4 linked regions of the Homo sapiens genome follow. The protein of the gene in region 1 purifies or fractionates together with the protein of each later gene. This does not show direct contact. Each region holds a gene or a part of one and is shown in the gene's direction. Other genes may lie near its edges.

Region 1 (3,214 bases):
ATTTTTAGTAGAGACGGGGTTTCATCGTGTTAGCCAGGATGGTCTTGATCTCTTGACCTGGTGATCTGCCTGCCTCGGCCTCCCAAAGTGCTGGGATTACAGGCGTGAGCCACTGCGCCCAGCCAAAAACAGTCACTTTTAGAAGCAAATATTTAGCTTTCCAGATGTGTTACTCTCCGATTTTGTTTCCCTCTCCATGTCTTTTTCTTTGCCTCACTGCTTATGATGTATAACTCTTTCACGTCTTAATGCCAATAATGATAGTGATACCTTAAAACTTATATTACCATTTAATTAATTATACAAATGGGAATACTTTCCGGTGAAAAATGTGTCATTATTCATATTGACATGATGACTATAGGTGAAAACTGGATGCAAATTTCTAATATATAACTTCTACTAGATAAACATACAATTGATTTATATGTTGATCGCTTACTCTGCAATCTTGCTAACCTCAATTATTGTAGAAGCATTTTTTTTAGATTGATTTTCTACATACACTCTCATGTAGTCTTTGACAAAAGATACTTTTACTTCTCCCTTCCAATCTGAATGCATTTTTTTTTGTCACTGGACACAATCTCCAGTGCAAAGCTTAGCTATGCCCACATTCTTGCACATATTAGTCTTAGATTGCAGTATCCTGCAGGTAAATACTCAGGACAACTTCCAGCACTTGAATATTTACTCCTTCCCCCACCCCACATACTGGTAGAATTCATGTTGGGATACTACATTTACTATGAACATACACCCCTGATTTGAAACAAGACTAGGATGCAAGGTAAAGAATGTTAATTCACTAAAGTTTTGACAGACTGAGGCCATTGTTTCAGATTGGAAATAGGAAACTTAAAAGAACTACATGGACATTGGGTAAAAGAACATGGGTTGAAATTTGCCTGGCAGTAGCCCAAGAGTAAATGGTCTTCAAGGTGCATATGAAGGAACTGTAAGAGGGAAATGGGATAATTCACATCTCCACCAATAATTAAATGTAGCCACACTAGCTTGGGGGATTTGAGGTGAGACATCTAAAATACTAAGTCATGGTGAGGGCTGGAAGACAAAAGAATGAATCACTTAATAGGAATGGCTGTGGGGAAGGGCTTGACAGAATCAACCTCTCACTTCCATGTGAACCATGAACATTAAACATGGAGAAATGAGGAGCGGCAGCAGATCAGTTTGGGATGCGTCTTCAGGGGATGCTGAAACAACAGCAGCATTTGGTTTCCTCTACACCCCTGTCACCCCTCCCCCACAAGCCCAGGGAGTGGTCAGCAGTGGTGCTTTGTGATGTCTAAGCCACCCTTGGACTGCCATTGGCTGGGACACTGCCTGTATGATCAAACAAAGCTCAAGGGTGTGGCTTTGCCTTGTCACCAGGAGGGTATATATAGGGAGGGCAAGAGCTCTGGGCCACTGGGAAGCTTCAATATAGCTGTGGAAGTCTGGACTCTACAAGATCCTGCTGTAGACATTCAACAACCAACCAGAATCATGGAAAAGCCCACTTCAAGCACCAATGGGGAGAAGAGGAAGAGCCCCTGTGACTCCAACAGCAAAAATGATGAGGTAAGATTGTTAGGTTTTGAAGTGAAGGCGAGGGTGAAAGAAAGACACACAGAGAGGGGGCAGCTCAAACAGCAACACAGGAATACTGCAGACGCTTGTGGAAGTGGGGGACCAGCTTAATGCCAGATCCCACCACCGCTTACAGCCTGGGGTACTTACAGGTATGGGTGGGAGGGATCTGGGCAGCATGGCTTGCTGCCCAGCAGGATATTGATAAGATGTTCTTATGATCAGGTGGTTTGGCCCTTTTTCTGGTGGAATATCGTTGTGGTGTTCCTTAGAACTTTGCCAAGCAAGATATGATAGGGATGTTTCTTTAGTTGGGCCTTTGTCTGCCTTGTGGACAGGTGGTTAGGCAGGATGTTTCTCACGGCCTGAACCCCCATGGGATGTTTCACTTTGACCAAGGTCTGCAAAATAGCAAAGAACTTACAAAATGGTGCAGTTTGGACTAACAGATGACCCTACCCATGCTCCTCTTCTTCCCCATAGATCCCTACCCTGTGAGTCAACCTTGTTCTTCTCTGGATCGAACCCCTTCCTCAACCTGCATTCCTTCTCATAAAGCCCCCCTTGCTATCCAGTCTCTATCCTATTCACCCAAAATAATGTCTTTCTGGCCTCTCCCTGTTTTCTTAACAGATGCAGGAGACACCAAACAGGGACTTAGTCCTCGAACCGAGTTTGAAAAAGATGAAAACATCAGAATATTCAACAGTATTAGTGTTGTGCTACAGGAAGACTAAGAAAATACATTCAAATCAACTCGAGAATGACCAGTCCTGAGAGAACTCCATCAATCCAGTCCAAGAGGAGGAGGACGAAGGATCCTCACAGGAGGACGAAGACCTAGACTCATCTGCAGAATCTTCAAAGCAGGATGAAGACCTACAATTACCTGAAGGATCTTCACAGGAGGATGAAGACCTAGGGTTATCTGAAGGATCTTCACAAGAGGATGAAGACCTAGACTCATCTGAAGGATCTTTGATGGAGGAAGAAGACCCAGACTCATCTGAAGGATCGTCAGAGGAGGGTGAGGAAGACTAATTAAACATGGAGAAACCAAATTGGACAAATCCTCACCACCAACGGTGATGATTACAATAAAATCAAGTTTGAGAAGCTGATGGCTGCATATATCTATGCCTGTTTTCTGATGGTGGGGGAGAAGGGAAGGGAAGAGGTAGGCATTTGAGAAGGGAGGGATATGAGGTCCTGTAGGGTTGGTGGACAGACTCACAGGTTGACAGTAAGCCAGACATTGTAAATAAGGCCTGGGGGAGCACTGATTCCTAAAGAAAATTTTCTTCTTAAAATTTCCTCCCACAGGAAGTGGAGATGTGTATATGTTCATGCAACTGTACCCGGCAGCACATAGTTCTGCTGAATGTACATATCAAAGGTATTCCCATCCCTTTTCCATTTGATATTTTCCTAGGTTAGAAATATATGCTTTATAAAGAGTTAATGTTCTGTAAAACACAAAGCACAATACAGACATACACAGACACCTCTGCTCACTCTCTCTAGAGGGATACAATTAAAAACATTGGTTATAGGGCCGGGCACAGTGGCTTGCGCCTGTAATCCCAGCAGTTTGGGAGGCTGAGGTGGGTGGATCACCTCA
Region 2 (3,500 bases), on another chromosome or scaffold:
ATATATTTTCCAACTTTGATACAGTTAATATTTATTTATTTATCTATCTTTGAAATGGGGTCTCACTCTGTGGCCCAGGCTTAGGCTCACTTCAGCTTCCACTTCCTGGGCTCAAGCCATCCTTCCACCTCAGCTGCCCAAGTAGCTGGGACCACAGGTGCATGCCACCACACCTGGCTAATTTTTTTGTATTGTTAGTAGAGAGGGGATTTCACCTTGTTGCCCAGGCTAGTCTCGAGCTCGTCAGCTCAAGCAATACACCCGCCTGAGTCTCCCAAAGTGCTGGGATTACAGGTGTGAGCCACCACGCCCAGGCAGTTAATTTTTTTATGTGCTAAGAGGCTTCTCTATTAATTTGCTTGTGAATGGGTGTGTGTGTGTGTATTTAAATTTTTAATGGTTCTGCATTAATGTTTCTGCATTCCTGCCATATAGGTTGTACTTTTTTTTTCCAGTTTGTTTGCCTTTTAATTTTATGATTTATTTTATACAAAAATTTAAATTTTCAGATATTCACATCTATCAATCTTCTTTTTCAAAAAGTTTATTGATTAACTGTATATGTGTATAATTTACATACCATAAAATGCACGTTTTGAAATTGTACAATTCAGTGATTTTTGGTAAATTTCCAGAGGCATACAACCATCATCACAGTAGTTTTAGAACATTTTTAGCACCCCAAAAAGATCTCTCATGCCTCTTTACATTTAGTTTTCTTTCCTGCCCCAGCCAAGATCTCCACTCATCTGCTTCAGTCTTTTAAAGCTTTTATTCTTAGAAAGGAGTCTTGAGCACTTATGTGGAACCAAGTGATGTGGCTATAACAGATACTAATGCTATTTTCTTCTTCTTCTTTTTTTTTTTTTTTGAGATGGAGTCTTGCTCTGTCACCCAGGCTGGAGTGCAGTGGTGTGATCTCGGCTCACTGTAACCTCTACCTCCCGGGTTCAGGTGATTCTCCTGCTTCAGCCTCCTGAGTAGCTGGGATTACAGATGCCCGCCACCACGCCCAGCTAGTTTTTGTATTTTTAGTAGAAACAGGGTTTTACCTTGTTGGCCAGGTTGGTCTCGAGCTCCTGACATCAGATGATCCAGCTGCCTCGGCCTCCCAAAGTGCTGGGATTACAGGTGTAAGCCACCGCTCCAGGCCACTAGTACTATCTTCTTTTAGGAGCTTGTGATCTTACAGGACAGATTATTAAACTAATAATAGTTTAAATAAATATAGTTACAAATAGATAAGTGCTACAAAAGAGAAGTAAAGCGTGGGGAGTGATAACAGAGGGCACCTATTTGAGGGTGGAGATTCAGGAAAGGTTTCCTTTTTTTTTTTATTATACTTTAAGTTTTAGGGTACATGTGCACATTGTGCAGGTTAGTTACATATGTATACATGTGCCATGCTGGTGCGCTGCACCCACTAACTCATCATCTAGCTTTAGGTATATCTCCTGATGCTATCCCTCCCCCTCCCCCCACCCCACAACAGTCCCCAGAGTGTAATATTCCCCTTCCTGTGTCCATGTGATCTCATTGTTCAATTCCCACCTATGAGTGAGAATATGCGGTGTTTGGTTTTTTGTTCTTGCGATAGTTTACTGAGAATGATGATTTCCAGTTTCATCCATGTCCAGGAAAGGTTTCTATAAGAAAATGACCCAGGGATGGGAAGGACCATCCAGGTGTGGAGTTGGGGGAGGAGCCTGGGGGAAGTATTTAAGAGCTGGACACTTGAGGACTGCAGGAATAGAAGCACATATGGTCAGAGAGAAAGGGGACATGATCTGAGTGGGAAAAAAATGGAATATTTTCCCATGCCATTATTTTCTTTTTATGCTGTTTTTTATGTCAAGGTATTTACAGATGATATTTATGTGGTTATATGTTTTTCCTGGTCTATAGGGTTATAATTTCCCCATATTAAATATATCTTATGCAGTGTTGAGACCCAGTGTATGTTGAATAAGGGCAGCAGAATTTTAATGGGGGGTGGGCAGGCGTTTGTGCATATGAGTGCATTATTTTCAGTATTCCTTTCTTAGTCCCAGAGGGGAGTGTGTTCAGAAACAGAGTTCTTGGGAATTACCATACTTTTCTTTATTGTTTTATACTAAGGACCATTCAGAGAGTACTGGAGGTGTTAAGACAGTGTGAAGAAATTACCTTCTTCATCACTTCTTCATCATTGCTTTGAGTATACTGGGGCCTCAGGGACTTGCTAAGAAAGTAACCAGTATAGTGATAGAATTAGAGTTGCTGCTCATGGCTTCAGAATATTTGGTCTCTGCTTACAGGATTGCATTGCTTTCTTCATAAGCTATGTAAATAGAAAGTACGATATCACTGTTTCTGTTTTCCAATGGGGATAACTAAAATATGGAAACTCAATCCTTAATGGATCCCTGACAATCTCAATGACAATCCATAGTGGTATGCCACATGACTCTTCTCTTTGTCACTTTCAATTCATGGTCAACACCTCAGATAGGCATTTTGAGAAGCAGGGCAGTCCTACCACACTTACCTAGTAAAGTCATTTTTTCACATTCAGACTTGACTCATTCATTTTTCTTCTGCATACTTCCTCCCACTTTCTGCATGTCTTCTATAATATCTCCTGCACTCTGCCTCATTCAGAACAGGCTAGATTATGCTATAGTAACTGATAACTCTCAAATCTCAGTGGCTCCACACAATAATATTTCTTGTCCATTTTATGTATCATTTGTGGGTTGGCACAGAGTCACTACCCATTAAAGTAGCTCAGAGATCCAAGCAGCCACCAGCTGGTTGCTGTGGCAGAGGGGTGCAGAGTATGCTGGAGGGTCTTGCAGTGACAATGACATGTTCCAGGCTGGAAGGGATGGCCATCATTTTTCACTGGACAGAAGTAATCCCATGTTTCATCCATCCTGAGGGGACCAGGAAGTGTAATTTTACACTGGGCCCAAAAAGCTGGGTGGCAGAGGAGGAATCCAGAACTATTTGGCAAACAGCTCTAATGACCAGCATACATTCTTAGCTAGTGATTCACCTTAACTTCATTGAGAAAGTCAGAGCATTCTCTAACTACCACCCCTCCAAAAGAAACCCTAGAACGTACTCATCTGCCTACTATTATTACATTTATCATCCTATCTGAATTCATACCTTCTTTTTCCTTCTAGCCTATTCCAATATAAGAAGTATCTTCTCTCCTATCCACATATTTTTGATCACATACTCTTATCAGTAGATAAGCACATACAGTGACATCCTAGAAAGTGTTTAACAAGTGGCCTGTAGGGGGAAAGAACCAGCCTTGATTTTTAGTGTTTTTTGATTTCCGCAGTGTAAATACTCTCACTGTGGACAGTTTCAAGCCACCGTCACGGTGTTACTGAATGTGCAGTTGGAAAGAGATGCACACAGTGGGCTCTCATGAGCCAGTGTGGACTGACTCCAGCACACCACCAGTAGTGTGCTGGTGGTAGTACTCATGTACTCGTGTCTGTTTT
Region 3 (3,500 bases), on another chromosome or scaffold:
AGAAGTATCCAGCCTCAAATGTCAATAGTGCCAAGATTGAGAAGCCCTGATCTGTGGTATTTATCATATTCATACCTTTGGTTTGTTGGTTTTATAAGACTGGTCCCCACAGTCCTATCCTTGGGCAGAAATTACTCTCATTGCATTATGGTGTTTGCTTTTTCTCAAAAGTTTAAGTTTTCTGGCTTACTGTGTCTCTCTCTGTGTGACAGGCACACATCCATAGTTGTGCACAAGGATGAGTTCTTCTTCGGCAGTGGTGGTATCTCCAGCTGCCCCCCGGTGAGTGTCTTCCCCTACACTCTGTCCTGCAGTCTCAGGTTCCTGGGGGCTCCTGTAGACCAGGAGCTTTGCTTCTACTATGGACTTCTGGCATTGTTCCTCAAAGCCACCTGAAGACTTGGCTCAATAAAACCTTTCCCAGACACCCCAGCCAGTTCCTCTCCTCTCTGTTCCCATGGCACGTGTGGGTCCTTCTGTCTCACAGAGAGCATGTTATGGTGAAATGAGCTGTTTCTGGTTCTCCACAGGGAACTGTGTAAGCTCCTTGCGAGCTGAGACCTTCCATCTCCATCCCCTGCACAGTGTCCGGCTCATCCTAGGAACGCAACTGATGTTAAGCTGAATGATGAGGGCTCTGAGAAGCATCAAGACTTGCCCAAACTTAAACAGCCAATAAGGGACACCAGTCCTAGAACCCAGGATTATCACACTAAAGCCCACACCCTTTTCCGAAAATTTCTTTTTTTTTTTTTTTTTTTTTTTTTTTTGAGATGGAGTCTCGCTCCGTCGCCCAGACTGAAGTGCAGTGGTGCGATCTCGGCTCACTGCAAGCTCCGCCTCCCGGGTTCGCGCCATTCTCCTGCCTCAGCCTCCCGAGTAGCTGGGATTACAGGTGCCTGCCACTACACCCAGCTAATTTTTTGTATATTTTAGTAGATACGGTGTTTCAGCATGTTGGCCAGGCTGATCTCAAACTTCTGACCTCGTGATTAGCCCACCTCGGCCTCCCAAAGTGCTGGGATTACAGGCGTGAGCCACAGCGCCCAGCCTTTTCCAAAAATTTCTATCAGCTATCCAAGTGTTGTCACAGTAGGTGCTCAAGCAATGGCCAAGCAGCCATTCATTTTGGTTGTGTGTTTGTTTGTTTTTGCTACATCCTACAGGAAGGATTTTTTTTTTTTTTTTGAGACGGGGTCTTGCTCTGTCACCCAGGCCAGAAATGCAGTGGCACAGTCTTGCTTACTGCAGCCTCCACCTCCCAGGCTCAATGAATCCTCCCACTTGAGCCACCTGAGTGGCTAGGACTCAGCACCACCACGCCCTGCTATTTTTTTCTATTTTTTTAGAGATAGGATCTCCCTATGTTGCCCAGACTGATCTCAAACTCCTGGGCTCAAGCAATCTACTGCATAAGCCAGAATTCTCCCATTGCTTTTGGAATAAAAGCCAGAAAACTCAGCATGGCCTCCCAGGACCTACCTGATCTGGTCTCTGACTCTGACTCTGGCCAGCCTCTTTTAGGTTGTTCCCTCCCAACCCTCACTCTCTTCTCATTCTTTGAACACACCGTAGACATTGAAACCTGCACTCTGACATCAGTACACCTTCTTGATCCTTCACCTGGTTACGCCTCTCCATCCTTCAGATTTGAGTTGTGTCACTTTCTCAGGCAAGTCTTCCCTGATCCCTCAGACCGGGAAGGTCTCCTGTCATACGTACTGTTGGCATTCTGTACTTTTCCAGCCTCCCCTTAATTGCAGCTCATAATTATATACTGGTTAAGGGGATTTTTCAGTTTCCCTTCCCTGCTACACTAAGCTTCTTAACGGCAAGAATCTCATCTATTTTGTCCACACCACAGCCCCAGTGCCTAGCATAAGGCCTGACACATAATAAGTTCTCAATCCATAGTTGTTATATGAGTGAATAAGAGGGGTCAAAGAGTGACCTTTTAGTTTCTTACAACTCTGAGATAATTGTTCTCTGCCTACCATGGTTATCTTGCTCACCATGCTTTCCTCAGTGCCCAGAACAATGTCAGCTATGTAGGAGGTGCTCAGTGGCTATGAATGAATGATCTTTTCAGGGAGCTCTGTTCTGGAGTGTTATCCCTTCCCAGATTTGTTCTCCTGCTGATCCCGTTGCTTCCCCAGTGGCTGGTTTCCCCACTCAACCTCAGTCTCTCCTTCAGTTTTCTCTGGCAGTCTGTTAACCACATGGCTGAGGGTTTTCTGTAGGCCTTTCGGGAGCCATTAACTCCCTTGCCCTATGATGGTGATAGGGCAAGGATTAGGCTCACAGATCCAAAAAGAACTGAATTATGGAAATATCTGCCAGCCTGCCAGATTTCTCACCGTCCTCGTTTTTCCATTATTACACGGGATATCAAGTATATCATAAGAAAAACTGGCTGCATACTTTATGCAAATAGGCATGGAGAGATGGCCTGTGAAGTGTGAGCCATTTCTGTTGTCCTGTTCTGTCCTCATGATGAGACATACTGGGGACAAAAGTAGACTTCAGATTCTGGGTTTCTCTTTCTCAGCTGAGTAAGTGGACAGCATCAGGAGTCAGAGCTGCAAGAGAATCAGCTTCCCAGGGCCCCCCCTCCCCTCTAGAAACAAGAAGTCCGACTCCTAACTATGCTGCCAGCACATGGCAATGAAAAGTGACCAGAAAGCTCTAAGCCAAGCTTGTCCAACCTGCAGCCTGTGGGCCATACGCAGCCCAGGACAGCTTTGAAAGTGGCCTGACGTGAATTTGTAAAGTTTCTTAAAACATGAGATTTTTTTATCTTTTTTTTTTTTTAAGCTCATCAGCTATCATTAGTGTTAGTGTATTTTGTGTGTGGCCCAAGACCATTCTTCTTCCAGTGTGCCTCAGGGAAGCCAAAGGATTGGACACCAATGCTTCTAAGCTATTGCATCCTTGATACAAATAGCAAATCACATTCTTCATCTGCCCAGGGTGCTCTGCAAGTTAAATATGAAGTCAGGCTGGGCGCAGTAGCTCACACCTGTGATCTCAGCACTTTGGAAGGCCGAGGTGGGTGGATCACTTAAGGTCAGGAGTTTGAGACCAGCCTGACCAACATGGTGAAACCCTGTATCTACTAAAAATACAAAAAATTATCTGGGCATGGTGGCAGGCACCTGTAATCTCAGCTACTTGGGAGGCTGAGGCAGGAGGATCACTTGAACCCGGGAGGCGGAGGTTGCAGTGAGCTGAGATTATACTCCAGCCTGGGTGACGAGAGAAACTCCGTCTAAAAAAAAAAAAAAAAAAAAAAAGTCAGAACAGAGTGTTTGTGGTCTACTGTGGGAAGCCACATTAAAACATTCAGTGGAGATGGTAACTTAATGACTTCCTTTGGGTTGGCTCTTTTAGGGAGGGACATTGCTTGGGCCTCCAGACTCTGTGGTTGATGTGGGGAGTACAGAAGTCACAGAAGAAATCTTTCTGGAGTACCTCTCCTCCCTGGGGGAGTCCCTGTTCCG
Region 4 (3,500 bases), on another chromosome or scaffold:
CCAGGCTGGTCTGAGCTGGTCTCAACTCAAGCAATCCACGCAGAGGTCCTGCTAGTCCTTTTTTAAAAAATATATTCATAGTGGAAGGAAATATAATGTAAATAATTATAATTACATAATTATAATGTGTAATTTATTTTCTTCCATTATAAATATTAAAGATATAGAAAATTTATAATTTTTTATATCTTTAATATTTATAATGGAAGGAAAGGCTCAGTTCCAATTAGAAGTTTACAAGAATAAAGTCGTAATTTCTTTCCTGTCAAATTTCATAGACCACTTGAGTTCTGCTCTTGGACTCCTGGGTTTTGTGGACCCCAGATTAAGAACCCTTTCTTTTCTTTTTCTTTTTCTTTCTTTTTCTTTCTTTTTTTTTTTTTTTGAGACAGAGTGTTACTCTGTTGCCCAGGCTAGAGTGCATGATCTCACTGCAACCTCCACTTCCTGGGTTCAAGTGATTCTCCTGCCTCAGCCTCCCCACTAGCTGGGATTACAGGTGTGCACCACCATACCTGGCTAATTTTTGTATTTTTAGTAGAGATGAGGTTTCACCATGCTGGCCAGGCTGGTCTCGAACTCCTGACCTCAGGCGATCCACCCGCTTCGGCCTCCCAAAATGCTGGGATTATGGGCAGCAGCCACCACGCCCGGCCTAGGAACCCTTTCATTAGAGTTACTCTAAACTGTGGAAGCCCCAGTGACTGTTATTGATTTCATTAAATAACAGACTTTTTAAAAAAGTATTTAATTTTTAAAAATATATTGTGAAGGGGTAACGTATTCCAATTGTTCTGCCTGCAAAAGCATGCATATTAAAAAATCTCCCTCCAGCGTCTGTCCCTCCTGAGGCGACAGCATTACCAGTTTTTTGTCTTCCAACTGAGATGTTCTGTACATATACAAGATATGTGGATACATTTATAGTCTTTCTTTTGTTTTTGTTTTTTGAGATGGAGTTTCACTCTTGTCCAGGCTGGAGTGCAGTAGCACAATCTCGGGTCACTGCAGCCTCTACCTCCCGGGTTCAAGCGATTCTCCTGCCTCAGCCTCCAGAGTAGCTGGGAATACAGGCGCGTGCCACCGCACCTGGCTAATTTTTGTATTTTTAGTAGAGACAGGGTTTTGCCATGTTAGCCAGGCTGGTCTTGAACTCCTGACCTCAAGTGATCCACCCACCTCGGCCTCCCAAAGTGCTGGGATGACAGGCGTGAGCTACTGTGCCTGACCTATAGCCTTTCTCTTTTACACAGTTCAGTAGCACACACTCTGTGATATTCTGCCCTTTGTTTGAAATAACAGCATACCTTAGAAACTGCCCAAGAGCTAATTTATGTAGACCAGCGGGTACAATTTTATAAGCTTCCACAGTTGTTTCACGGAATTATGTCATCACCTTAAAACAATTTTTCACTAACCTTTAAACTTAACTCCAAAAAAACCCATTTCAGGTCCTCAGTCTATTCCTCATATTAGATGAAAAACAGTCTTCTTATGGTAAAGGAGGCCTCTTATCTTTTTCTCTGATTTGGAGCTTTTATTCTGCACCAGTAAATCTCACCAGCAAATTATTTTGGTTCATAAAAACAGGAGTTTCTTTTTGAAGGGGAAATTCATGTTTCTGTTTTTTTTTTTCTTTCTTTCTTAAAGAAAGGGTTTTATGTGTGTTTAGATCTCTGCACAACCAATCACCTCAACAAGTGTTTGGATTTCTGTTCCAGGAGCAGCTGACAGACGAAGAAAAGTGCTGGACAGGAAGGGAGAATTCTGACGCCAACATGCAGCGAAGTATCATGTGAGCACCCTCCCTTGCCCCTGAGTCTTTCCTTCTCCAAGTCCTCTGTTTCTTTCTCTAAATCTGTACTTAAAAAAACAAACAAACAAACAAAAACTCTTACGTTAGATTTTGAGTTGGAATTTCCAGGAGTCAAGTAGTATGGAAAATGAGCCGTGGGATATGGAAGACAGTGTATTGAACAACAGTTTTTAGTTGCAAGGAGCAGAAACCCTAACGCAGTGGTTCTCAGTCAGCAGCAATTTTGCTCCCCAGGGAACATCTGGCAGCGTCTGGAGATTTTTTTTTTTTGAGTTGGAGTCTTGCTCTGTCACCCAGGCTGGAGTACAGTGGCGCAATCTCGGCTCACTGCAACCTCCGCCTCATGAGTTCAAGTGATTCTCCTGCCTCAGCCTCCTGAGTAGCTGGGATTATAGGCACGTGCCACCACGCCTGGCTAATTTTTGTATTTTTAGTAGAGACGGGGTTTCACCACGTTGGTCAGGCTGGTCTCAAACTCCTGACCTCGTGATCCGCCCACCTCGGCCTCCCAGAGTGCTGGGATTTCAGGCGTGAGCCACGGCGCCCGGCCAGTGTCTGGAGATATTTTTGGTTGTTACAACCTAGGGACAGAGGGTTTGCCATTGGCATCTAGTGGCTAAAAGCCAGGCATGCTGCTAAACATCCTTCAATTCATAGGACAGCCCCCCCAACAACACAGAACCATCAGGCCCAACATGTCAATAGTGTCTAGGTTGAGAAACCTCGTGTTAATGCAGTCCGGCTTCAGGAAGACAAGAAAGGGCATGACTTGACTTATATCATTGAAACCTGCTGGAGTAAACAGCCTCAGGCTTGGTTCGATCCAGTTGCCAAAACTTCCTCCCTGGGAATCTGTCTCTCTCCATTGTTCAGCTCTACTGTCCTTGAGGTTGTCCTCACCCTCAGGCGGGCTCTCCCCTCTTAGCGGTCCCCTTGGAAAGAGGGTGTTAGAGCCCAGTTTCACTGGCCCAGCCTGGGCCACATACCTATCCCTGAACCAGCCACAGGGATGCAGCCTGGATCACGTGTCCACCCCTGGTCACAGGCAAAAGGGCCAGCCCACTCAAATCGTGTGTACTGAGAGAATGTGGGGTAAGAAGCATCCCAAGAGGAAAACGGAGGGGCTGTTACCAGGAGGAAAAAATGGATGGTAGAGAGACCCAGACAAGGGCATCCATCCCAGAAACCTGGGCGGTAGTGGCTTACACAAATGCTGGGTTCCGTTTTTCTCCCGTGATGAGGAATCTGGGGATTGTCTCTCCAGGGCTGATGGTGCCTTCGATTGCTTTCTGTCCACTGGCTTTTGCATGATTTTTCCTTTTCTTTTTGAAGATTAAATAAACCTCTTATTCTGGAATAATTTTAGAGGTACAGGAAAGTTGCAAAGACAGTACAGAGAGGTCCTGTATACCCTTGGCCAGTTTCCATTGTCAATATCATACATTACTATGATCCGTTTCTCACCACTGAGATACTAATGTCAGTACATTACTCTTAACTGAACTCCATACTTTATTATTCAGATTTCACCAGATTTTTTTTTTAATGTTCACGCCTTCCAACATTTTTTTTTTTTTTTTTTTTGAGACAGAGTCTTGCTCTGTCGCCCAGGCTGGAGTGCAGTGGCGCGATCTTGGCTCACTGTAAGCTCTGCCTCCCAGGTTCAGGCCATTCCCCTGCCTCA

Evidence for each region. Proteins that work in one complex are often made in the same cells at the same time.
Region 2: the proteins of SPANXN5 (region 1) and FTO purify together in Homo sapiens (affinity purification with mass spectrometry; one large-scale study listed by BioGRID and IntAct). This does not show direct contact.
Region 3: the proteins of SPANXN5 (region 1) and DESI1 purify together in Homo sapiens (affinity purification with mass spectrometry; one large-scale study listed by BioGRID and IntAct). This does not show direct contact.
Region 4: the proteins of SPANXN5 (region 1) and LIG1 purify together in Homo sapiens (affinity purification with mass spectrometry; one large-scale study listed by BioGRID and IntAct). This does not show direct contact.

Annotation. Positions count from the first base shown.
Region 1 is NC_000023.11:52,795,644-52,798,857, reverse strand, and holds SPANXN5 (sperm protein associated with the nucleus on the X chromosome N5), read left to right. Parts: upstream 1-1,430; 5' UTR 1,431-1,509; coding exon 1,510-1,584; intron 1,585-2,226; coding exon 2,227-2,370; 3' UTR 2,371-2,714; downstream 2,715-3,214.
Region 2 is NC_000016.10:53,819,156-53,822,655, forward strand, and holds part of FTO (alpha-ketoglutarate-dependent dioxygenase FTO), read left to right. Parts: intron 1-3,500.
Region 3 is NC_000022.11:41,604,044-41,607,543, reverse strand, and holds part of DESI1 (desumoylating isopeptidase 1), read left to right. Parts: exon of another isoform or gene 1-18; coding exon of another isoform or gene 19-56; intron 57-212; coding exon 213-282; intron 283-3,390; coding exon 3,391-3,500. UniProt on the Homo sapiens protein: Protease which deconjugates SUMO1, SUMO2 and SUMO3 from some substrate proteins. Has isopeptidase but not SUMO-processing activity. Desumoylates ZBTB46. Collaborates with UBQLN4 in the export of ubiquitinated proteins from the nucleus to the cytoplasm.
Region 4 is NC_000019.10:48,163,845-48,167,344, reverse strand, and holds part of LIG1 (DNA ligase 1), read left to right. Parts: intron 1-1,721; 5' UTR 1,722-1,778; coding exon 1,779-1,795; intron 1,796-3,500.